Homo sapiens: one gene and its partners. The protein of the gene in region 3 interacts with the protein of the main gene of each other region in a pairwise test. Each region holds a gene or a part of one and is shown on either strand. Other genes may lie near its edges. The genes, in order: RBM45, TAC3, JPH3 and ALDH1A1.

What was found.
Region 1: the proteins of JPH3 (region 3) and RBM45 interact in binary tests that used the Homo sapiens proteins (3 or more experiments, as listed by UniProt).
Region 2: the proteins of JPH3 (region 3) and TAC3 interact in binary tests that used the Homo sapiens proteins (3 or more experiments, as listed by UniProt).
Region 4: the proteins of JPH3 (region 3) and ALDH1A1 interact in binary tests that used the Homo sapiens proteins (3 or more experiments, as listed by UniProt).

The regions. Positions count from the first base shown.
Region 1 is NC_000002.12:178,108,248-178,115,451, reverse strand, and holds the start of RBM45 (RNA-binding protein 45), read right to left. Parts: upstream 3,016-7,204; 5' UTR 2,906-3,015; coding exon 2,606-2,905; coding exon of another isoform or gene 2,177-2,605; intron 1-2,176. UniProt on the Homo sapiens protein: RNA-binding protein with binding specificity for poly(C). May play an important role in neural development.
Region 2 is NC_000012.12:57,009,495-57,013,558, forward strand, and holds the end of TAC3 (tachykinin-3 isoform 1 preproprotein), read right to left. Parts: intron 3,895-4,064; coding exon 3,865-3,894; intron 3,382-3,864; coding exon 3,328-3,381; intron 3,244-3,327; exon of another isoform or gene 3,127-3,243; intron 2,959-3,126; coding exon 2,885-2,958; 3' UTR 2,884-2,884; intron 2,798-2,883; exon of another isoform or gene 2,640-2,797; intron 795-2,639; 3' UTR 506-794; downstream 1-505. UniProt on the Homo sapiens protein: Tachykinins are active peptides which excite neurons, evoke behavioral responses, are potent vasodilators and secretagogues, and contract (directly or indirectly) many smooth muscles. Is a critical central regulator of gonadal function.
Region 3 is NC_000016.10:87,682,508-87,689,541, reverse strand, and holds part of JPH3 (junctophilin-3), read right to left. Parts: intron 5,401-7,034; coding exon 5,276-5,400; intron 1-5,275. UniProt on the Homo sapiens protein: Junctophilins contribute to the formation of junctional membrane complexes (JMCs) which link the plasma membrane with the endoplasmic or sarcoplasmic reticulum in excitable cells.
Region 4 is NC_000009.12:72,950,046-72,957,289, reverse strand, and holds the start of ALDH1A1 (aldehyde dehydrogenase 1A1), read left to right. Parts: upstream 1-4,236; 5' UTR 4,237-4,289; coding exon 4,290-4,355; intron 4,356-7,244. UniProt on the Homo sapiens protein: Cytosolic dehydrogenase that catalyzes the irreversible oxidation of a wide range of aldehydes to their corresponding carboxylic acid.

The DNA of each region.
Region 1 (7,204 bases), on a different chromosome or scaffold from region 3:
TGATATCAGTAATAAATGGTAAATAGGGAAATACAAATAGGGAAGCTTTAAGTATATGCAAAGACACTAGAGAAAAAAAAAAGAACCTCAGGTAAGATGAAATTGGAAGTGCCATCAGAGCACAGATTTCTATATTTTAGAGGACTGAGGTGTTTCAAATCTCTGATAAAGGAGACAGTCTATGTAGAACATACGTAAAATAATTAACCTCCTCATGGTAGATTTCTCCCATAAATTTTTACCTTCATAGACTGAGTGTTCATAGGCTCTAGATAAGAAGCATTCTTGCAAAACTACAGCCAAGATTTTTTTCTTCTGTTTTCTAGGTTTCCCCCTTTCCGCCAGATAACATAGTTGGTCACAGAATAACTTTTACTTGGACAATCTTTTCTGGCTGAGGGCTGGTAAGATAATATTGTTGTCTTACAGATCCTCTGAAACTTTGTAAAAGCAAAGTACAATAGAAATATTGAAGCTGAATTAATTTAACTGGAAATGCTGAAAACAACCCAAGAGTGTTCCAGTTGAAGATGGCTCAAGCTGCAGCTGCTGAATGAAACTAGTCTGTTAGGGTGTGGTGGCTCACAACTGTAATGGGAGGATGAAACGGGAGGCTCACTTGAGTCCAGGAGCTTGAGACCTGCTTAGGCAACATAGTGAGACCCTGTCTCTAAGAAAAATAAAAAAAATAAGCTGGGCATGGTGGTGCACATCTGTAGTCCCAGCTACTCGAGAGGGAGGATGAGGCAAGAGGATTGCTTGAGTCTGGGAGGTGGAGGCTACAGTGAGCTGTGATCAAGAAGCCACTGCACTCTAGCCTGGGTGACAGAGTGAGATTCTGTCTCAAAAAAAGAAAAAGAAACAGAAACTAGACTGTCTAGCTAGGTACTACAGTGAAACAACCTTCTGGCTAAAACTGAATAGTCAAAAATGTGACAAAGAAAATAGTAAAGTTTATTTCTTTTTGGGAACAAGATCTTTAATTTCTCTGAGGCTAAAAGAGAGGGTACATTTCGGTGTTGGGCCTTTAATTTCTCTTATAGAAATTTATCAGGGGAAGGTGGTCCATCAATTTCAAATATGGGACAGTTTTTTGGGCTGCCCACAAGGGCTCTGTGGCCATGTTACACTCAAAATATAAAAATCCTCTCCACTAAGGTCATAATTGGACAGCGATAAAATTCATTAGTCTAGTACAGGGGTCAGCAAACCACAGCTCCATTTTTGGTATAGCCCATGATGTAATAATTGTTTTTACAGTTTTTAAGGACTGTAAAAACAGACAAGGTTATGTGACAGAGACTGTATGTGGCCTGCAAAGCCTAAAATATTTACTAGTCAGCCCTTTACAGAAAAAGTTTGCCAATTCCTGATCCTGTATGCTGTGGCCCTACAATTAATTTTGTTGCTGTCACTCTGACACACTTCAGAGGGTTGGAGAAGTGGGAGGAAGGGACTGTTTACTGTGTTGTTGGTAGAGTCCCAGGCTCCTTCTCTTTGGTGGATGGAGCAAGACCTCCAGAGACTGAAATATCTCTGAGCCCTTTATTTACATAAATCCATATTAATACCATTCTCAGTTTGGAAAACAATTTTTTAAAAAATTGAGAAAATATTTTTGTGCAAAGTACCAACAGAATAACATACACAGCAACTATTTACATGGGGCAGACGAAGGCTACAATTTAAGCAATTGCCAGATTCTCAGGATTGAGTCCTGATTTGAGATCACAGGGAGTAAGCTGTGACATCTTGGCTACTACTGATCAATAACAAGGACATTATTGAGGGCTTACCCTGTGTGAGGCACTGTGCTGACAGCACATATTATGTCAAATAACCCTCAAAATGATCCTTCCTGCCATGTGTCATTATCACAATGATTTGGCTCTTCTTAAGGCAGTTTACTTTGGTCTGCTTTCAAAGAAAAGTTGCAGTAACAGAAAGGGTCAAGAACCAAATGTATGCTATTAACACTTTCAGAAACAGAGCTCATTCAAAACAATTTTCCAAAATAACAAAATGTGAAGAATATGTAACAGTGACCGTTTTAAACACCTGCACTTATTCTTTCTGTACATGTATTCTTTCGCCTGGTACTAGGAAAACGTCCAACACCAGAGGTCCCTCCCCAGTTTAAAGTACTTCTGTCAAGTTGTTAACGCCTCATCTGTACCTGAGGAAAAGTAGAGTTTTTCCGTTTTTTATATATGGAAATCTGGGCATCTGAGAGAGGAAGGTCAGAAAAGTACTCAAAGTAGGCTAGGACGAGTTTGGCAGTGAACTCAAGAGCTGGTGGATTAGTGAGGGCGAGGGAGAGGGGAAGCCCAGCCACTGCTGTTCTGTCACCCGGTGGCCGCGGCTGCCGGGTCCGCTCTCGTGGGGCAAACACTCCGCATCCCGTCCCCTTCCCTGCAACCCGGCGCAGCTTCGTGGGAGGGGAGCCTCTCCTCAAAGCAGCCCCTGTCCCCAAGCCAGGTGCTGTCTGGTCAGCTGCCGGGAACGGATGTTCCACTCCTCCCTCACCCCGGCAGAGCAGCAGGTGAAGGGAGGTCCAAGAGGCCCACTCCTTCCCCCGAGGGCACCCCGACCCGGGCACCCGCACCTTGATGGGCTTGGTGTCGTTGGGGCCGAGGCACTGGCCATGCATCTCCTCCATGGCCCTGCAGGCCTGTGAGCTGCGGGCGAACTTGACGAAAGCAATGCCCTTGGACTCCTTGGTGTGCTTGTCCCGCACCACCCAGATGTCCTGGATGTCGCCAAAAGGCGAGAAGCGCTCCCTCAGCACCGACTCAGGTGTGTACTTGCTGATCACAAGGAAGATGCGGCTGTTGGGCGGTTCGTCCAGGCTGTCCACGCCCGGGCGGAAGCCCCCGCCGCTCGCAGAGCTGCCAGCTTCGTCCATGGTGCTCCACCCGAATGCAGGAGCCTCACTGCTCTTTGCTTCTGCGGTGTCTGCCACCGCTGCTGTCTCACACCCAAGCCTTTGCCGGCTCGGTGCTCCGCTTCCGGGAGAAAGAGGAGTCCGGCGCCAGGCGCTGTCCAGCCGCGCAGGATGAGGCCTTCCGGGGAGCGGCCTGCAGCGCCCCCTGGCGACGCGGGGGACCCTGACCCAGTCTAAGTCTCAAATCCTCAAATCCAGCTGAGCCTAGGCCCAAGTTATCAGTTGTGCAATCGTTCCCTGCAGGCAGAACAGCGCTGCCTAATGCACAGGCTTTCCCAACGCTGGCTTTACCCCACCCCTAAGGCCAAGGATTCTTTCCAGTGTTAAAGAAAAAATTATTCATGACACTCGTTAGAGATGGTACAGGAAGGCCGACTTTGACAAAGGGAGCCATGGAGATAGGTCCAGGGACAGCTGCAATGGGGTCTTGCAGTGGGAGAGAGAGATTGGACTGAATTTTGACTCTAATAAGGACAAATTTCTAACCAAGAAGCTTGGTGGGAGGTCAGTGGATGGAAAATTACAAAGAGGGAACATCAGTGTTAAGGAGGATTCTGGCTAAACCAACTTGACAGGATAGTTGCTGAAGGCAGGCCAGGGTGATTGATATCCATGGTAGTCAGACACCAAGAATGAGGATTTTCACTACACTGATTCAGCAGGATTCTTGCTCAAATTGGATTCTACAAGGACAGAAAGCCCAAGATCAAGCCTAGTCAAGCAGAGGACTCAAAGGAGCCTAACTAAGTTTTGGTCAAAGTGGAGAGTTGTCACCATCTTGGTCATAAGCTCAATAGATGATCAATATAGGACAGAGTTCAAACTATATAGCATTAGAGTTGGAAGGAAGCTTTGAGATCATTCAATTTCAGCGTCATTTGTTAGAGATGAGGAAACTGAGGCCTATAGCATAGCCAAAGTAATAGAGATAAAAAGTACGACTAAAACCAGAACTAACTTGGCCAGGCGCAGTGGCTCACGTCTGTGATCCCAGCACTTTGGGAGGCCGAGGCGGGCGGATCACGAGGTCAGGAGATCGAGACCATCCTGGCTAACACGGTGAAACCCCGTCTCTACCAAAAAAATACAAAAAAATTAGTTTGGCGTGGTGGCGGGCACCTGTAGTCCCAGCTACTCAGGAGGCTGAGGCAGGAGAATGGTGTGAACCCAGGAGGCACAGCTTGCAGTGAGCAGAGTTTGCACCACTGCACTCCAGCCTGGGGGATAGAGCGAGACTCCACCTCAAACAACAACAACAACAACAAAAAACCCAGAACTAACTCCATCTGTTGATTTACTCAACTTCTACAAGCAACCCTGGGGTTGGAGGGCAGTGAGGGTGGACTGCTCAGCTGTGGAACTAAGAGAAATCATAGAGTGCAAGCAAAGTGGGAAATGCCTTCTTGTTAACAAGCCTTAGAGGAGAGGTCAGAAACCCAGTAGAAATCCAGAAACAAGGCCTGGATTTAGCAGTGGCATTGGAATGAAGTGAAAGGAATAAACCCCTAAGTAGACCGAGGGCGGAGTTCTTCAAATGAACAAGTTCTGGATGCTAAGACCTAGGTTGCTATGAAGTCAACCAGATAAATACTTATTGTACTCCAACTGTGTGCCAGGCTCTATGCCAGGAGCTAGATATATAATGAGGAACAGGAAAGACATGTCCCGAGGGCTTGTTTTCCCCCACTGTGGAAATCTTACATGTAAATATATAATGCAAAGTAATATCAGATTATGTTACATGGTTTTGCTACTGAATTGTGTGAGCCTGGACAAGTTACTTAATACTTGCAGCTTCGGTTTCATTAACTGTAAAGTAGGAATAATATTACCTACTAAATAGGTAATACATATTATTTTGTGGTTGGATTAGTTAAGCTTGATAGCCGCCTAATAGCTACGCAGGAGCATGACTATCAAGTTTAATTAATTCACCCATTCACTTAATAAGTATTTTTGACTATCTACTATGTGTTAGGCACTGTGTTATACTGAAGGGATGTAGTATTGAACAAAATAATTACTCTTCTTCCCCCACAGAGTTAATCATTTAGCCTTATATAGTTATGCTCATATAAGATAATATATATGGAGTTCATAGTTTAGAGATCAAATGAGATAATATTTGTATAATGGTATAATTGAGATTAATTTTCTTGTTCCCTTTGACTATGGTATCCACTCCCCCACCACTGATATTATACAGTTGTGTGATGACTACTGAGAGTCAGGGATTGTGGGTTGTCACCCTGGATTTAGCACTAAGATTTTTATAATTTCTCCTTGTATTACATTCCATATCTGTAGTGAGGGTTCTGTTTACCCTGAGGCTGAACAACTCTAGGAAGTATCTTTTCTTGACTTTCCATTTCTCTTTTTCCTACCCACAACAATCAAGGTAAATGAAAATAATTTGATAGTGTGAGTTTTGTTGATGAGAGGAACTGCAAAGCAATATTATTTGCAAACCAGTGCCATCTAGTGGAAAATGTGTAATTTTCTTAAATTGTCCTGACTGGGCAATCTCTATTCTTTGTGAAATAAGACTACTGATTGGTGTCCTGAAAATTTTAGGCTGTTATTGAGAACAGTTAATTCTTTTCTCAAAAAAAGATAAAAGATTGCATAAAACAAAACCAGGAACGCAAATATTGGAAAATGCCAGAAAAGCAAAATTTCTTTACTATCCAATTATGTGAAATATGACATATTCAAGGAAAATTAGAAATTTACTTATAAATTAAAAAAAGTAAGTACATTTTCTTCATGACATGTATTTATTTTAAACAGATTTATTGAGATATAATTCTTCTTCTTATCTTATTTTTTCTTTTCTTTTTTTTTTTTTTTTTTAAGGGATTGGTGTCTCACTATGTTGCCTAGGGCAATCTCGAACTGGCCTTAAGTGATTCTCTTGCCTACGCCTCCTAAGTAGCTGGGATTACAGGTGAGACCCACCACACCCAGTGAGTTCTAATTCTTACATCATACAATTCACTCATTTGATGTATTCAATTAAATCGTTTTTAGTGCCTTCACAGCATTGTGCAAGCATCATCGCAATCAATTTTAGAACATTTCATCACTCAATGACCAAATTGTTATATTTCAAATCATAAAACCTTTGAACATGAATTACATGTAACTAAAACACCTAAAAATGTCTGAGGTTTAAAAGAATGATTTTTAGTTAGTCTGCTTAATAGAAGAAACCAGGTGCTGGGCATTTGCAGATTAAATTTTTTTCAAGGCTTTAGAACATGTAGCCTATAAAGCACTGTTATTAGAATGTGCACACATGTTTGTTTCACATGAAATTCAGATTTTTTTGAAACTTTTTCTCCCTCAAATCTTTTCTTTTTAAAAATGAGAGGTGATATTGTGACTAATTTTTGAAATGCCAGGAGCAAATAGTAAATTTTTGTCATTATTTTCCAAACTGAAGTACAATGAGGCTTACTTAGTTGGTGATATTAGTCTTCATATGTTACATCAATTAACTAAAAATATTTCGCCCTATTTGCAAATTTTTTATAGGTTTTAAAACTAAGACTTATTGGTGATCAATTAGTAGCTTTCAGATTGTTGTATATGAATATGATCCAGAGTTTCCATTTGACCCATCTGTAAGGCTACTGTCTACTGATAACGTAGGCAATTACTTAGTCTGACCTGTGGCAGGCACTCAAGAAATGGTAGTCTCCTTCTTGAGTTTGCATGCCTTTGAGTTTGAGAATAATATCTAACACCTGATTTTTTTTTTCACAGTATGCCTGCTCCTTTTGATTCAACTTGATGACATACATCTTTTAAATGTGTAGATCACAGGACAAAATTCATAGATACCACTTAGAATAGTTTCATTAAAGCATCTGGTGACTGTGGCTATTTAAATTAAAATTACTTAAAATTACCTAAAATTAAAATGAATTATAATGAAAATAATTAAAAATTCATTTCTTCAGTTGAATTAGCCAGTTTCCGACAGCTCAAGAGCTATCCACAGCTACTGGACAGCGGGCACGCAGAGCCAAGCACTGCACAGCAAGTACAAGGCTTTAAGCCTCTGCGAGAGGTGAGATCCCACGGGATCTGGGGGCCAATCAGCAGTGGGACCGGGTCCCGGCTTGCCATTGGCTGGCGATCACTGGTCGCGCGCGTCCGGCTGCGCTTGCAGCCCAGGGCGTGAGGTGCTCTTTCTGGATCGCCAGCCTCGAAGTTGAGGCGTGGACTCTGGCCAGGTGGCTGTTCCAGGTGACT
Region 2 (4,064 bases), on a different chromosome or scaffold from region 3:
CCCCTGCCTCCTGGGTTCAAACGATTCTCCTGCCTCAGCCTCCCAAGTAGCTGGAATTACAGGCATGCGCCACCATGCCTGGCTAATTTTTGTATTTTTAGTAGAGAAGGGGTTTCACCATGTTGGTCAGGCTGGTCTCGACCTCCTGACCTCGTGATCCACCCGCCTCGGCCTCCCAAAGTGCTGGGATTACAGGCGTGAGCCACCGGGCCCGGCCTGTTTTTTCTTTATCTAAAACTGGTCTGTAAAAATCTTTGTGTGTTAGAAACCATCTTCCAAATTCGTGTATTTATTTTAATCACTAAATAAATCTGATACTCATCGTGCAAAGCACTGTGTAAGGCACTGTTCAGGAAATAGATATATACAAAAAGATATGTAAAGTTATTTACATTTAAATATGAAGTGTGTGTATCATAAGTATGTGTGTATTTACCATGTAGCTGGAGGAGTCAAGGAACAGAAAAACCCACCAACCAAACAAGTAAACACACACACCACATCATTCATATGCAAAAATCCTTTATTGTTGAGGAATAGAGAGAGACATTATATTTTTAATGTAGGACACTACAGGAACTCTAGGGTATTCTACAGTCAATGCCCATTGGGGTTGGGGATATTCACTATGCAGTTTCCACACCAGGGTCAGGTAGAAAAGATGGAGAAGGAGTCAAAGCACAAGAATGTTACAAGAACAGGGAAGAGAAAGGGTAACAGGAGCGTGCGCACCTGGGGATTGGGACAGGGAAAGAGGTCTTCCTAATGCAGTCCAGGAGTCCGGAAGTGGAGTACTGAGGACAAAAAACAAAACAAAACAAAAAAAAACACTGAAATCACATCTTATATCCTGTAAAAAAGTCCCACTGAAAACCTGCTGTGGCAGCAGGAGAGAAGGGGAGAGGCGTCTGTGAGAGAGGAAAGAACAAGTCTTGACCCTCAGCCTGCCCTCCAGGCTTTGGGCCTGAGGATGGAACTCTCCTAGCCGCAGGTACTTGCACCTTCCCAGCTGCCATATTTACATTACTCTACACACCTGTGTGCATGGCCAGTGGGGCCCATGTGGACCAAAGATGTAGGAACCAAGTTCATGCCATCCTAGCACCACCATGAGCCAGACACACACACAGCCCTGCCCAAGGTGCCCTACTATGAATGCTCCCCCTGCCTTATCCAGTTCCTCCTCTTCCCAGAAACCTCCCAGAGGAAGCACAGGCCCAGGGATTACTTACAGTTTCACATGAATGAAATCAGATGACACAATGATCTGTGTTGATCCATCTCATCTAATCTTTAAATGCCAGCTCCCAGAAACCTTATGTCCTATTCTGCCTGACACCTAACAGGTTGGGAATGCTCCCTCAATGGTAAGATTATGAAAGCTGCAATTATGGGTCCCTCTGAAAGAGCCTGGATGCACAAACAAGCATTAAAAGTAGATTTCCACAATGCACTTGTTTTTGCCATTTGTATAAAATACTATAGCAAAATTGCACTGTAATTATCTTTATGGCCAGTGCATAACGCTGGAGCAGAGTATGTCATCCAGATATAGCTGCTCGTATAATTATCTGGCCGTCGGCAGGACTGAAATAACCATCTAATGAGAGCAAAATGATACAGTAACTACCATGTAATCAGCAAGTTACAGTTATTATAGCTCTTTGTGCCCTCTCACCCAACACTAAATGGGGGGCCAGACTCAGTCTCTGGTCCCAGGAATTCATGCACAGGCAGCATCATCAAGCACCAGCTCCTTGGGTCTTGGGCGTGCCACCTTGAGACCAGTGAGTATGGGTAACAGGGACACAGAGAGAAAAGCAGGAGGCTCTCCATGATTACGAGCCTTCCCAATCTCTCTCCCTCTCCTTTTCACTCCCTCCACCCCAATTCTTTGGAAGCTAGTGAAAAGAAAGCCATTGGTGGAGCTGCTCTTGCTGTGTGTGGGAAGACAGTGTCAAGGCGGAAGGTTCGTGTTTTGACTAGACACTTCCCTGGGGGACTCTTACACTCGCATACCAAGTGAGGAATTTGTCAGCCCACTCAGGCCTGGGGTCCAGACAGAGCCAGTCAGGGGAAACATTAGGACATCCCCCATACCTCCCAAACTGGGACAATTATCATAAAATTGGCACACAGCACTGTGCACCCGGCACTGTTCTGAACACTTTACCTATACTCAATCCTCAAAACCACAACCCTGTGAGATACTATTATCACTTTCATTTTTCAGATGAGGAAACTGAAGCACAGGAGGATATGTACCTTGGCCAAAAAGATACAGATAGAGTGGCAGATCCAGGATTCACATTCAGGCCATTGTTCTTATTCATTATGCTAAAGAGAGATTCAGATATGGTTTCCTGCTAATCCCCATTAGATTTCAGAGTTCCTTGCATTTCTTCCTGAATCATCCTTGTGTATGACTACCTTCTGGGCCCCGTAACCCAGGATTCTGAGTGATTTGAAAGGCTCAGCCTGCCTGGGAGGCAAATGCTTGCCTGTGAATTGGTTGTGGTATTTGTAATTATCAGATAATAATTTCTCCATCTTTTTGCATAGATTACAAAAGAATGAAGTCCAAACAACAGAAATTGCCCATCGGGGAAGCCCCTCTCTCCTCATCTCCCAACACTCACTCCTGCTCAATAGTCAGCTGCCGTCCATGATCCAGAGGAAAGAGATGAAAGACGGGGGATGTGTACAAACACACGTGCCTCTAAGTGTCTTTGTGTTTGGCCGACAGTGTGCTGGGCATTGGCAGTGTATTTCAGGGCAAATCTATGAGCTTTAATACCTGTAGCATGGGAGGAAATGCACAGCTGGCAACCCCCACAGCCCCCTCCCCAGTCCCCTCTCCCCTCTCTAATGAACAATCCTTACCCTATTCTGCTCTCGGGGGATACTTGAGGATGCCAAAGCTGGGGACGTTCTCTTGATTCACATCCGTAGGAGAGTCTAGGGTAAAGCGAACAGTGTAAGTAAGAGGGATCTTTCTGAATGTGAACTACACCCTGATCCAACAGCAAAGGGCTGGCTATGACGGGCAGTGTTCAAAGACAGAGTTGGGAGACTGGGGTGGAAGCAGAGTCTCCCTATCCTTCCTCCCAGCTGCAACAGGACTACCTTATAAAGGTCTCTGCTCCTCTGTTCCCAGGGAAGACTTTCCTGTGGATCCAAGCTGATTGGGATGAAGGGGCCGAGGAACCCTCACTGAAGGTAAGAAAGGTCCTGTCTTTCCCTCTGGTGACAAATATGAGGCACGTGACTTCTGTCATACTCTGCCAGTACCCTAAGCCCTTCCACTGTACCTCCACACACTCCTACCTGGCTGGACGCTCCTCTTGCCCATAAGTCCCACAAAGAAGTCATGCATGTCACCTGCAGAAAAGGGCCAACATTGTCAGCAGTGATGATGAGAAAGTGAAGCATCTCCCCAGACATGGGTCAACACTTCTGAGACTGGGTTTCTGGTCTCTGTTCCTTTTTCTTGTCAAAGCATGACTCCTCACAGTTAGCAAGTGCCTCCCCTAAACCCACTCTCTCTGCTCACCTTTCCTTCCTCCACATTTCAAGAATTTTCTGCTCTAGCAGGTGCCTGATTTGGAATTTTCAGGGCCACGAAGAGATCCCCTTGTTTTCCAAGGACCAGCCAGCAGAGGGAGAGCCCACCATGCCCCTCACACCAGCTTCCTCCTAGTTCTGGATGGCCTCTCCCTTTCAGGAAAGGTTGGCTGAGCAGTGGGAGCTGGCATATTGTTTGTACCAGGTGAGAAGGGGCTGGACAAAATGGCCCCTGGGCCCAATGCCCCACAGAGCTCTGGGCAAGTGGCAAGAGATAGGGAGGGAGAAGAGGGTACTTACGTTTCTCGGGAGATGTTGATTCCTTAGGATCTGTGAAACCAAGAACAGATGTCTAAATGGGGAGTGAAGTTGGAAAGTGATGAGAGCGGGGTTCAGATCACAACCCTCACCGATTCACTAAGCTATCCCCCATCTCTCTCCCATCTGAAAGGATCTCCCAGGCCTCTTATCTTCAGAATCCTGCCCCTCATTCCCCTCTC
Region 3 (7,034 bases):
AGGCGCTTCCCACTCACCGAAAGGCTGCAGGCAAGGGAGGGGAGTGGGGACCGTGGCTCCCAAAGCCCTCTGTGGGACCCCCGTGGTCCCCACCCCACAGACACTTGGAGGGAGACTGGCTAGGCCCAGGCACCACAGGAAGGGCGGACAGCAGCTCCCAGGCTACAAGGGAGACCCAAGGCTCGGAAAGTGCGTGAGGACGCTGGGGTGTGGACTCAGGTCCCACCAACCCTGACTCGCCTGTCCTGAGGGTAAGAGGAAGCCCCTCACCCTAGCTGACCACCTGTCTGGGGAGGCCGAGCTGTCACAGCAAGGCCGCCAACACCCCTACCCGCCTGGGACTGTGTCTCAGGGTGCTGGGACAGTCTTGCTGAGAAACAGCCAGTGCCGGGGCCAGCGTGAGAGCCCAGGAGCCGACTTCCCTCCCCACCTTTCGAGGCTGCTGGGGCTTCAAGTCCTAGGGCGGGGCTCCCCGGAAGGGGAGGTCACCACAGGACCCAGGGGCCAGCTCTGCAGCCAGCAGAGTCCCTGTCGTCTGCCGGTGGCTCAGTCCCCATCAGCCCCCACCCGGAGGCCTGGATAGGGAGGGGCAGCATTGTAGGACTAGCCCCGAGACTTCTCCGGAGCTCCGTGAGCCCCCAGCAGGAGGTGAGAACCAAGAACATTGACTGGGATCTCATTTCCTGCCAACGCAGGGACACGGGAGCCATGCCCGACTTTATTCCATTAGGAGAAACCCAAGAACGCGGCGCTTCTTACCCTCCGGGGAACAGTTACACGTTCATCTCAAGTAGCGTCCTAGGCTCAGCACAGAACAGTGGGACCCCCGCCCCCAGCATCCCCGTCCTGCCCGAGCCAAAATGGTGCAGAGCTCTGTGGGAATTTGGGGAGTCTTCCCTCTGAGGACGGAGGTCTCAGAGCTCTACCCGGGGCGGCCACCTCATGAGACCAGCTCGGACACCAAGAGCCACTGCCCATCTTAGAGTCTCTCACGCTCGGACATTCTCCTGGCCTGTACCCCAGTCTGACCTTTTGGCAGGAGAAGGTCTGGGAGACGCCTGTACCCCAGTCTGACCTTTTGGCAGGAGAAGGTCTGGGAGACATGGCTACCCTCGGTGTGGCACCAGATAGTCCCTCCGTTTGTAAAGAGACGTTAGCAAGCAGATTCGGGGCACGCTGCGACGCCACCAGGCTGGGCTGCTGTGTCCTCCTCCTTGCTGGTCTAAGAGGCAGTGCTGAGCAGAGCGAGGCCATGGCCCTGGCCTGGGGCTTGGGGCACAGCTGGGTAGCTCTGGGTGGGTGGCCAGCCCTCCCAAGTCTGAGTTCCTGTCACACGGGGGTGTGGGTGGGCCACTCTGAGGTCTCAATGACTGCTTCTCTGTGGTCACTCCCCAGAAACAGGGCTGGGCTGGTTGGGTGTCCCCCGAGCAGAGCAGGGAATGGGCCAGAGAAGGTCTGTGTAGAACTGTGCTGACATCCACGTACCCACCTGACGCCCAGCCCCACCACCTCTCTCCCCGTGAGGGTCCTGTGTGGAGGGCAGCCCTGGCCCCATCAGAGGCCCCCAATCATGCCCACGGATCACCCACATCGTACCTCCTCCTTGGCCAGGATGGGACTTCCAAGGGGCTGGCATTCCTGTGCCTTAGACGCTATGGACCTAGCAGGCTGGGATCAAGGCCCCCCCCATCCCCCGATGGCGCCCCGGCCTTTCCCACCAGGTCGTCCACCCACTGCTGCCGAGATCAGGCCTGGCTGGCCCAGGAGACCCCACGCTAGAGGGGCCCCGACTCCCAGCACCACCAGCAGGAGGGCACCCTCAGCTAGAATGAGCTGCTGAGCAGGTAACGTTCCTAGAAGCCTCGTGGTGAGGATGCAGGGCGGGTCCTCGTGAAGCCCCTGCAGCTTCTTCCTGTGCCTTCAAGCCACCTGCGTCCTGCAGCCTCCGACGCTCAGTCCTCCTGCCTCTGGGGCGGGGGCGGATGGCACCGGAAGTGGCCTGGGCACTGGACACCGCATGGCCAGGCTCCTTCATGGTCCTGCCTTCACGTGGCCTTGGGCAGAACCCTGACGGTCAGAGTTCTCGGGCTGGGAGGCTGCCAGGGACCTCCCAGACAGGCAGCAAGAGGCTGGCGCCAGCCACTCTCTGCAGCCGAAGCGCTGGATGGTTTGCTTCTCTAGAAGCCGGCATGGCCCAGGCTTCAGAGCCTCGTTTTAAATCCTGATTCCACCACATCCTGCCTGAGCGCTCTGGCAACCCTGTTCCCCTCTTGGAGGCTCTGTTCTGTCATCTGTCATTGGTGACCTCAGCTCCTGGCTGTGAGGACGACTGAGGAAGGACCTGGACAGCTTCCCCCAGCCCCACCCCTCCCCAGCAGCCGAGAAGGCCCCGGGGTGCCTGGTCTGGGAACACTGATCCTGAATGCATCCAAGGCGGAAACAAGAAATGCTTGGATCAAATCTCATGCCAGTCCCAGCGCTTGTAAAAAACACACGGTCCCAACGCCCCCTCCAGGGAAGATGCTGCTCAGAGAAGGCTCCGGGGCGCCACCCAAAGAGGTGGCAGATCGGACCGAGGTGCTCAGAGTGAGCCAGGCTCCAAGGTGCAGCAGCAGGAGGTGAGGCCAACTTGGCCAGACCCTCGAGGACTGGACTCCCACCAGTGAGGCAGCAGCGGCCCCGTCTCTCCATCACAGCGGCCCCCACAGGGGCCCGCATCTGTATCATGAAGACAAGAACTGTCGGAGGAGGCAGCTTCAGGACTTAAAAGGTCAGCCCAAGGCCCCTCCTGCAGGGACCTGAGCCCTCCAGGAAGCATCTCCTCTGAATCCAGGACTGAGCCCTCCAGGAAGCATCTCTGACTCCAGGACTGAGCCCTCTGGGAAGCATCTCCTCTGAATCCAGGACTGAGCCCTCCAGGAAGTATCTCCAAGTCCAGGACTGAGCCCTCCAGGAAGCATCTCTGACTCCAGGACTGAGCCCTCGAGGAAGCATCTCTGACTCCAGGACTGAGCCCTCCGGGAAACATCTCTGACTCCAGGATTGAGCCCTCCAGGAAGCATCTCTGACTCCAGGACTGAGCCCTCTGGGAAGCATCTCCTCTGAATCCAGAACTGAGCCCTCCAGGAAGCATCTCTGACTCCAGGACTGAGCCCTCTGGGAAGCATCTCCTCTGAATCCAGAACTGAGCCCTCCAGGAAGTATCTCTGACTCCAGGACTGAGCCCTCCAGGAAGCATCTCCTCTGACTCCAGGACTGAGCCCTCCAGGAAGCATCTCCGACTCCAGAGTCTTAACTGGAATTCTCAGGGTGGGGGAGCCTGCACCCATTTCTTGGGACTGGAGCAGTAAAGCACCACGCGGGGGTGGGGGTAGAAACACCCAAAAGGCAAACTCGTGTTTCTGGAAGTTAGAAGCCGTGATCCAGGTGTCGGGAGTGCTGCTTCCTTCCAGGGTCTCCGCTCCAGCCACCCTCCAGCCACGGAGTCTCCAGTGATCTCTGACATCACTCCATCCGCCCCTGTCTCCTCCTCTTCTGTCTCTTCTAAGGACGCCGCGTGGATCTAGGACTCACCCCAATCCAGGCTGATCTTGTCTCAAAGTCTGTTCCATAATGACACCTGCACAGACCCTCCTCCCAAATAAGTCACGTTGGGAGCTTCCGGTGGATGCGTCTCTTGGGGGATTTGGCACAGGATGGAGGCTTCAATGTTCCCTGTCTGGTCCCCTTCCTTTCACACATGGAACTGAGGCTCTGAGAGGAAACAAAACAGGCCGCAGGCAGTGGAATGTGAGTCGCAGGCAGGGCTGGAGCTGAGGCGACCATGGGCCAGGGTTGGTACGTGGAATCCCATGCCGTCCTACGTGCATTCTGCGTGGAGTGGCCCAGCCAGGGTTCTGGCAGGTGCCCCCGACGGCACTGGCTTCCTCTCCAGCATCCCTGTTCCGTTCGTCCATCCCGCAGCACTGCACCCACTCCCCACATGCACGTGCACGCTACACGTGTGCCCCCAAGTGTGCGCCCCACCGCCTCCCAGCCCAGGCAGCTGGTCGTGGGCGAGGCAAGGAGGGGCCCCAGGGAGAAGGAAACTCAGGGCCTGAGGGCGAGACCATGGAGGATGCCAATGGCCACAGGGGCACGTGGCCCATTGCCCTCCCACTTGGACACTTTGGGGTGCGTGTGTCTGGAGGGGCCAGGAGAGTGGAGGGGACGCAGTGGAATAGAAGCTGCCCAAGGCGGTGGGGGTGCGGGGGCTCGTCCTCCTGACCTCCAGGCTGCAGCTGCAGGCTCTGCAGGGCCCGGCACTCGCCCAGTGAAGGCAAGGTCTTGGAGTGGTGGCGGACGGTCACCTCTAGAGATGATGTGGTCTCGCGTTCCAGTCAGGGGAGCGCCCAGCCCCGCAGCCCCCAGGCTGGGCTCCTCATCCTGTCCTGGTGGCCAGAGTGGCAGGCGTTGCGAGCAAGTTCAGGGCTGTGGTGTCAGGTGCGGACCTCCAGCGCGCAGAGCCTCATCCGAATACCGCTCACCGGTCAGAGCTCGGGTTGAGGGGGCGCGCTCCTAACCCCATTCTCTGGGGCCTCCTGGTGCAGAGGAAGCTTCCTCCAAGATGAGGTAGGAGATGGGAGGCAGCTGGCCACGGCCTCTCCGCCACCCACCCCACACCCTCCACGCCCCCGCCACTGTCACTGGGCCGTATCACCCATGATCCCCCCCTCGAAGGGAGGACGAGGTTCCTAAATCAGGCAGCAGCTTCCAGCTCTTTCCGAGGGGCACAGCGGGAGCTGCCATTTGTGACGCTGTCCAACCCAGCAGCCACTGGGTGTGTTTAATGGTAAGTTAGTTCACATCAGAGGCAGGTCAAGAGCCAGGACCGCAGACACACCCAGCTAATGGCTGCCACGCTGGACCCAGCAGATAGTTCCATCATCCCAGAAGGTTCTAGAACAACACTGGGGGAGGGCGGGCAGCAGACAGCACAGGCTGGGCAGGTGGGAATTCACCGTCAGGGACAGCCGGCAAGCAACACGCGGTGCCCCAAGGACTGTGGGAATGGGAGAGACCTGCCAAGACACATGTCCTGTGTCCCGGGGAGCCAGGCCAGGCCTTGGCACAAACAAGCACCTTCGGCGGGAGAGGAAGACACCGGGCAGGGGAGCAGCTGGGGCTGAGCCCATCTAAGCCTACCCGCTCTGGAGGACACATCTGCTGCCAGGACTGCCCAGCCATCCACGCACCCCCTCCCCACGATGCCAGTATCAGGCCCGGCGAGACTCACCGTTTTCCCGGTGCTGGAAGGAAGGGGAGAACTCTTTGGCAGTGATCCTGGCGATCCGCGCCTCCTCCTGGGCTTTCTGAGCTGCTGTGAGGGCTGCCTCGGCCTTTGCCCGAGAGTGGGAGGTCCTGGGGGAGACAGGGAGGAGCGTGAGGGGGGGCAGGGGGCACAGGTGACAGGGGTCTGGGTTGAGGTACTCTGCCAACCCCCCAACAACGGGCTGGGCTAAGACAAGATGCTGGCACCCCATGTTTACCCTCAGACTTCTGGATCTTGTTCGTTCATTCATTCATTCATTCAATAAACATCACTGAGCATCAACCAACCAGGCCCAGTGCACAGGACATGCTTGAAAACACCTCTGGGCAGGGCATGGTGGCTCACGCCTGTAATCCCAGCACTTTGGGAGGCCAAGGCAGGAAGATCGCTTGAGCTCAGGCGTTCACGACCAGCCTGGGCAACATGGCAAAAGCCTGTCTCTGCCAAAAATACAAAATTAGCTGGGTGTGATGGCACGCATCTGTGGTCCCAGCTACTCGGGACACTGAGGCAGGAGGATTGCTTGAATCTGGGAGGTGGAGGTTGCAGTGAGCTGAGATCGCGTCACTGCACTCCAGCTTGGGTAATAGAGCAAGACTCTGTCTCAAGGAAAAAAAAAAGGGGAGGGGCTGGGCACAGTGGCTCACGCCTGTAATCCCAGCACTTTGGGAGGCTGAGGCGGGCAGATCATGAGGTCAGGAGTTCAAGACCAGCCTGCACAACATGGTGAAACTCCGTCTCTACTAAAAATTACAAAAATTAGCCGGGTGTTGTGGCACGTGCCTGTAATCCCAGCTACTCAGGAGGCTGAGGAAGGAGAATTGCTTGAACCTGGGAGGCGGAAGTTGCAGTGAGCGGAGATCACGCCATTGCACTCCAGCCTGGGTGACAGAGCAAGACTCCATCTCAAAAAAAAAAAAAGAAAATGTTTCTGTTCTTATTATCAACAAACATCAGCATGTGCACAGAAAGAGTCCAAGCCCAGACAACCCACCCCGGCGGTGCCGGCCCGCTGTGCTGTGTGTGTCTGTGCTTCCTGCCACTGCCCCGGTGTGGGTTGCGGGACCACCTCCCTGCCCAGTAATCCCAGCAACTCTGACTTGGGAACCCAGGGCTTGGGCAGCTGGGCAGTTCCCTCACCCAGCCGAAAGATGACGCCGACACCCATGTGTGACACGAAGGAGCCATTGTACCTGTGGGCAGCCGGGCACGTCACCCCTCTGGCCGCTCCCTGACTGTGTCTCTCCCTCTGCTGAGTCCTGCAGGGGACCTGCCCACCCTTTGTAAGACAAGGGACTAGACAGACGTCCCGAAGGCAGAATGTGGGGCTCTGTGCATCTCAGCAGCCTGGGGCTTGCATTTCTTCCTACCTGGTGTGCTGGCCCCCGGGGGGGCCTGCCAGTGGCCATGGGCACCACTTCCCCAACAATGGGGAAACTGAGGCACAATGACCAATTCCCCCACGACAAATCCCCCCTCCGAGCAGACTCCCTGGGAGGTCTCCTGTTCACGGTTCCTGACTTAGCCTGTTGGGGCTGCAACAAAGCACCGCAGCTTGGGCGGCTCATCAATAGCAGACATTGCTTTCCCCCAGTTCCGGAGGCTGGAAGTCCAAGATCAAGGTGCCAGCAGATTTGGTGTCTGCAGAGGACCCACTTTCTGGGTCCTGGACAGCACCTTCCTGCTGGGTGCTCACATGGTAGAAGAAGCGAGGGTGCTCTCT
Region 4 (7,244 bases), on a different chromosome or scaffold from region 3:
TGTTGGATAATCTGCATGAGAATTATAAAAAAAAAAAAAAGAAAAAATTGTGGAAATCTCAAAGTAGTCTACATTTTGATTGACTCATTGATGTCTTTCATGTCTTTCTTTCTACACATTAAGGAAGCAAACTGGAAACTAGACAAAACACTATGAGTACTATTTATGCAAGATTATTTCAAATTCCAAGCAGCAAATCCAGTTCCAAGAAATGGCCTCAACCCATAAGGTTTAGCAAAAACCTATTTAAACTCAAATAATTATCTTACAGAGGCTTTAATGTACTGTTTCTTTTAGTGACCTTACTAATCAGTTAGTGTCCTGGTTAGACCAGATTAGAGGGGCATCTATCCTATCTCAGTAACACAAGCCAAAGAGAAGAACAATGAAAAGATATGTAAAGAGCAGGAGAAATCAGAGGTGAGGAAATTTTTCCAATTGAAGAAGAATGGCATGTGAACAGAAATTAGTCAACAAATACATATGTTCATATACTTGAATTCTGCCTTCCACTTCCATTTTTAACATCAACTTGTCAACTAAGTACAGACTCTCTCACTACATACAAGATCCACTTTTCCCAAATTATTAAAACTCAAATAAGCATAAGAGCAATGTGGTATCTGATAAAAATGTAGTAATCAAAAGCATAGGGATAGATTTCTTGCTAGGTTTACCAACAGGCAGACATGCTAAGGCAACAGAGAATAGTTAGGGGAGTGGTCATGTAACTGGAGTAGGAGAGGTTCATCTTCAATAAATGGTTCCAGCATCTTGAAATCAGGAAATATGAAAAGAAACTGTCTTAGTTCATTCAGGCTGCTATAACAAAAATTAATTTCTCACAGTTCTGGAAGCTTGAAGTCTGAAATTAGGGTGCCAACATAGTTGGGTTCTGGTGAGAGCCCTCTTTTGGGTTACAGATTGCCAATGTCTCATTGCATCCACACATGGCAGAAACAGCGAGAGATCTCTCTGGAGTCCCTTTTATAAAAGCACTGATCCATTCATGAGGGTCCTACCCTCATAACCTCATTACCTCCTAATATGATTTGGCTCTGTGTTCCCACCCAAATCTCACCTTGAATTGTAGTTCCCATAATCCCCACATGTCATGGGAGGGATCCGGTGGGATGTACTTTAATCATGGAGGGGGGTTACCGTCATCCTGTTCTCATGATAATAAGTGAATTCTCATGAGATCTGATGGTTTTATAAGGGGGTTTTCCCCCTTTTGCTGAGCACTTCTCCTTGCTGCCACCATGTGAAGAAGGACGTGTTTGCTTCCCCTTCCACTGTGATTGTAAGTTTCCTAAGGCCTCCCCAGCCATGCTGAACTGTGAGTCAATTAAACCTCTTTCCTTTATAAATTACCCAGTCTCAAGTATGTCTTTATTAGTAGCATGGGAATGGACTAATACACCTCCCAAAGGCTCCATCTCCTAATACCATCACATGGGGGGTTAGGATTTCAACATATCCATTGTGACTGGACAAAAAAAATTCAGTCCATTGCAGAAGCTATTTTTAATTCATCATATGACTTTTTTCAACATTTTTTTAAAAATTTTAAGTCCTGGGTGGCAGATTAGGTTCCTTTTATCTTTTCAGGAACTGAGGATTGGACGGAGTTCTGGAGATGTTTGTTGTAAAATGAAAGAGTAGTTTCAAGAATGGTTGAAGTCATAATCTATATGTTTCTTGGTATAATGAAAGCTTTCACAAATGGCTGGAGAAGTCAAATTCAAGAGATGAATAAACTATCCTCTTATGTTTCTTGCTTCTCTCTCCATATGTGTGTGTGCCTGTGTGTGTGTGTGTGTGTGATTTAGTTTGTTCATAAGGAGGAAAAAGAAGATGAAACATCATTTGTCGATTACTCTCAAGTTAAAGGGACAGCTCCTCCTCTGCTGCATAGTCCTGGCATACCATAAAAACGTACAATCCTGGGTCCAGTTCTAAAATGTGCAACCTTGGTCCCTAGGTTCTCACAAAAGCCATTATTTCCTCTGTAAGGAATAGAAGTAGTCTGATGAAATCTTTTCCTCATATGCAGCAATTCCCAGAAATATGCTATTCTACAAAATAAGCTCTCAGGGCAGGATGATGTTTACCTCAAAAATATAGGTCTCAGGCCCTGTGGTTTCTAGGCAGAAAAGATCTGCTTAAGTGAGGTTAGGGCTAAAGAATTATGGATGCATAAATGATACTTAGTAAATATTTGCTGAAATTAAATGGGCAGGTGTGGTAACCTGTCTCCAAAGCAACTCCTTTTGCCTACATTCAGGAATGCCTGGTATAAAGGGACTGTTCTTACATAATTATCCAATAAAATACAATTGAGAATGATCATATAAGAAGTGAGATGACAAGCCAAGTATGTTATGAAGCCTTGAGCTTTCATCGCCTGGACATCAAATAAACCAGTATTTGAATCCACAAACAACTGTGACTCTGGGAGAAGAAAGCAGCAAAACACAGCTGTTTGGGCATGGCCAGAGCGCCACTCTCAAGTTATGTAACAGCTGTTGTGTAATTGTGCATTTAACTCAAAACACATTTTTGAGAGAGAAAACAATTAGACTTTCCAAAAAGAAAGAAACAGAGAAATGTTGAAAGAACACAGAAGTTTCTATCTGGTCATCAAACATAAGACACGGGGGAGTCAAAGGCATTGGGAATGATATTGCCTTAGAATCTAGGGAGTTGGCCCGTGCACCAAATCTGGCCTGCCTTCTGTCTTTTTAAATAAAGTTCTATAGGAAAACAACTACACCCATTAATTTACCTATCATCTACAGTTTCTTTTAAATAGAGTCAAGTAAATTATATCAGAAACCATCCAGCCCAGAGGCTGAAAATATTTACAGAAAAAGTTTTGCAAATTCTTGTCTTAGATGAATAAAAAGTTATGTTTAAATGCCTGTAAGGGTGACTATTCACTGAGAAAACCAAAGCAGTTGATGCTTGAACCCATGTAGGAGTTCTCTTGTGGAGAATAGGGTAGAAATAGTAAACAGAAATAAGAGTCCAGGTTTGGGAGTCAGACTGGCCTGAAATGAAATTCTGGTCCTGCACTAATAGATCTGTGACCATAAGTAAGCTACTCACCCTCTGTATGTCTCTAAAATGGGGATATGAAATGAGGGTAGAAAGGGAAACAAGTGCTGCACCTGATTTGGGCAAACAATTCAGAAATTTTTAGTTTCCCTATGTAAGTCCCATATTCAGGGGAATTGGCAAGTTTCACTAGAAAAAAAAAAATTGGTTGATTCTCCACAATCAGAGCATCCAGAGTATTTTATCTTGTTCCTATTGTAACGTTTGCTAGAGCTACAATACAATAAAGTATTGTACTTAAAATGGGAGTAACACTGTTTAAAAAATTGTCCTTCAGCTAAATATTAATTTAAGAACTTGAATTGTTTGGAAGCCCTGCTTAAATTTAGTCTTTGTACACTGCCTATGTTGATAAATACAGACAACTTCCAAAACCAGGATTACTTTCATTTTAAATGAGTATTAATAGATGATATTGCCATATTTCTAATTGTGGTGATTGTGTGTGACAGTGTGTTCCGAATTCCCTAAAAGTCCTGCTGGCTTTTCTGTTCACATATAGAAAATAAAGATAATTTAGGGCTTCTGAGATCACAGTAGGTCTACTTACCCAGCACTGAAAATACACAAGACTGATACGATATTTTAAAACTAACTTAGGGTAGGGTGTAGATAAAGGGCCTTTCTTCCCCAAACAGCACCTTGATTTTCTGGGAGATGGACTGATTTCCTGAAAGCCTTGTCCTGAAGACACCTGGCCAGCTTCTACTGAGAACAAGTGCCCTTTTAGACTCTTTTCAATCCTCAAATTCTCTGATTCCAAGTCTGTCAGAGAACAGAAAGTTACATAGTAGCATTAAAAAGCATGAGAAGTCAAAAAAATAATAACTGGCCTTAGTGGCCAGAGCAGCTGCTGCATACACTTATCACAGGTTTCGGCTTTGTAAATTAATTCATCTGCAAATAGTGCACTGTCTCCAGGTACAAATTCGATGCTGGAGCACTGGTTTCTTAAGGATTTAAGTTTAAAGTCAAAGGCTTCCTGCCCTAGGTGTTACAAATAAGTAGTGTCGTTTTCTTTTTTTGCTCTGAGTTTGTTCATCCAATCGTATCCGAGTATGCAAATAAACTTTAGCCCGTGCAGATAAAAAAGGAACAAATAAAGCCAAGTGCTCTATCAGAACCAAATTGCTGAGCCAGTCACCTGTGTTCCAGGAGCCGAATCAGAAATGTCATCCTCAGGCACGCCAGACTTACCTGTCCTACTCACCGATTTGAAGATTCAATATACTAAGGTGAGTAAAACTTCTATTTTCTGCTTTGACTCGGGTTTGCAAAAACTGCATTTATGTAAAGCATTAAAGGTCAATTTAAGTAAACTTGTGTAAAGAGCCCTTTGCAAATATAAAAATAAAAGGCATGCAAAATGCAGGTCTCAGTTTAGTGTCCTGATCAAATATGATCTAAATCATATCAGACAATCTTTCATAAATTTATTTCTTAAAATATTTCCAAGCGAAAGGAATTCTCTTCTGTGTGAAAGGATTCTTATACCAGGATTCAGAGGACTTTACTAAGCACTTCTATTAACTTCACTATAGCCGGCATGTATGATAAGAGAGCAAAATACTCACTAGAGAAGCTTACTGGAAAGAACCAAACGAGTAGGAACAATAGAAAGCAAACAAGGAGAAAGAGAGCATACTGAAATAACATAACTTTCCAATATGTTTAATAAAATGAGTGTTAAAATAGGGGGACTTAAGTCTGATAATTGGATTCGAAAATCTTCAGATGGACTTGCATTATTTTGCATATTTTGGTGGGAGGAAGAAAAGCATTATTTCTTCAGCCAAGTTTGTTGCCATTGGAGCAGATGTGTAATTGTTAACTGATAAATATTTAGAGAAACAAGAGCAGGAGCTAGATCCAGACTTTAAAATCCGCAGCTGGGGGGAACTAGGAAATGGATCCTGCTTGAGTCGTTCTGAGAGTAACTCTGAACTTTGCCTGTTTCACACTGCTTTCCTGTCAGATCCTAGAACTCCAAAACAAACAAATGAATAAAACACAATCTAACCAAAATTACTTGAAGTTATCTTTATGGTGTGATGCAGAAAGTATGGTAAGAAATTAACTCTTGCAAATCAAGAGAGAGCCATTTTGCTGTCTGAATTAGCCAACAGAAAAACAAAGGGCATTATAATTTAATGATAAAGTAAAAGTCCCCACTGTTATATATTTATTTCCTCACTTGTAACCATGGATGGCTTTGAAATCCCAAGGTCTGTTGCATTTTCATTTTCATAAAGCACAACAAATGAGGAAGTTGCTCAGCTGATTGGCTCTTTTCCTCAGGAAAGTAGCAGCAGAGATCAGATTGTGCCTTTAACATGGTTGACCAGCAGCTATGAAGTGTATTTTAAGGTATTGTTATCACGAGGTTTTGTTAAAGAGGAAAGATTTTTTCCATTTAGTTTTACTACAAATGGTAGCATGAAAAATGCAGTAAATCCATACCGTCAAACAATTTACATTTGGCAAAGGTATGTCCAAAAGGTTGCAAGAGTCCAGTCTCCCTCATTTTCTTATTCCAAGTTTGTCATTCACAAGAAATTTCAATTGAAAGTGGGTACATTTAAAAATACATTTCATGAAGCTCAAAATTGTCGACAATGCTCAGATTATTGTATTACTATTATTAATGGGATTTTTTTTTTAATAATACTACCTAGGAAGATATTTTGGTAGTCTGGATGCCCCTGTCTCCCCACTCCTTTGGCTTTGCAGAAGTTTGCAAAGTCTTCCTTGTGTGTGTATTTCAAGGAAGCTCTAATGTAAATAACCTTCCTGCTAAATTAAGCTTCACTTAGTAGTCATTAACTAAGCATGTAAGAAGCGGTACTAGACAAATGAGATGGTCCTAAAAATCTAACATACAAGCACAGACCTAATGAACCCTTAACACAGAGAGATGATTTTGAGATTGAAACCTATTCACTTCGAAGTCACTGTGCAACAACTCCCCTCTAGGGAAAGTGACTGACCTAAGTGTCCAAAAGAAGGCAAGACTCAAAGAGCAGGCGTTTTGCTCTGTGTTTAAGAACTTTTCTGGGTAAAAATACTCCAAACAAGTCAGTGAATTTTGATTTCTCGTGCATCTTCTATATAAATCTGTTCTGCTCAGATAGCATTTTATTGTTTAATTTATTGGTTACAGCGTTTTCACACTTGGGAGGACGCCAGTTATGTATGTAATTAAATCTAAATGGGTGAACTTTTTCAAATGCCTTCGCATTTTTTGTTTACTATGTCCCAGTGAAGAATTGGATTGAATTTGCTCTTGCAAGAGGAGTTAAAAAAAAAAATGATGGTTATTAACTATAAAAAGTTCCCTGGTTACAAACCAAGTAAGCAAGGAGTTTATAGTGTCTGAGGAATTATCTTCTATTACCAGCCCCTAAAGTCTTGTGTTATTTTTCTGTTACTATTCTAATGTCCTTTTTTATTATTATTATAGCTAGAAGTATATTGGTTGTTAGGACAAGTTGGAGAGAACAGACAGGGTTGAGTAAAAAAAAAAATATTACAACTACGATAGAAAAGCTACATACTCTCAAGCTTGGGACTGCTTTTCACCCAAACAAAAGAATTTATTGATGCATATGTTTTTATGACTTATTTTCTAGTACAGTCTGATTATTTCTTTGTTGGGGTAGATTAAAGAGAGATCAGAGTTTAAGAAATGCTTTCTAAAATTATACAAAAGCTTTTGGAATTTAAAACCTCAAAAACATCGCTATAAATTCACTAATATGAACTCATATCCCATCCTTATCCTCATTACTCCTCTTTCCAACTCTAAATGAACCCCACATTTTCCATTTTATTGAGCCTTTAAATGAAGAGATTCTTTGAAAGTTATGTGATCATTGGGCAAGCTACATTACTTCTCTCTGCCTCGGTTTTCTTATGTTTAAAATGGGGATGATAAAGGCACGTATTTTCTAAGGTCGATGAAAGTATTAAACGAACTTAATGCGTACAAAGCCCTTGAAATAATGCCTGGACATGGGAAATGATTTAACGTTAGTGATCCTAGTCCTATTTTTCTGAATCCTTTCCAGTTTTTCCAGAATATTCCCTTTTACCCAACCTTTCCTAGACCTGTTTCCTACAAGTAT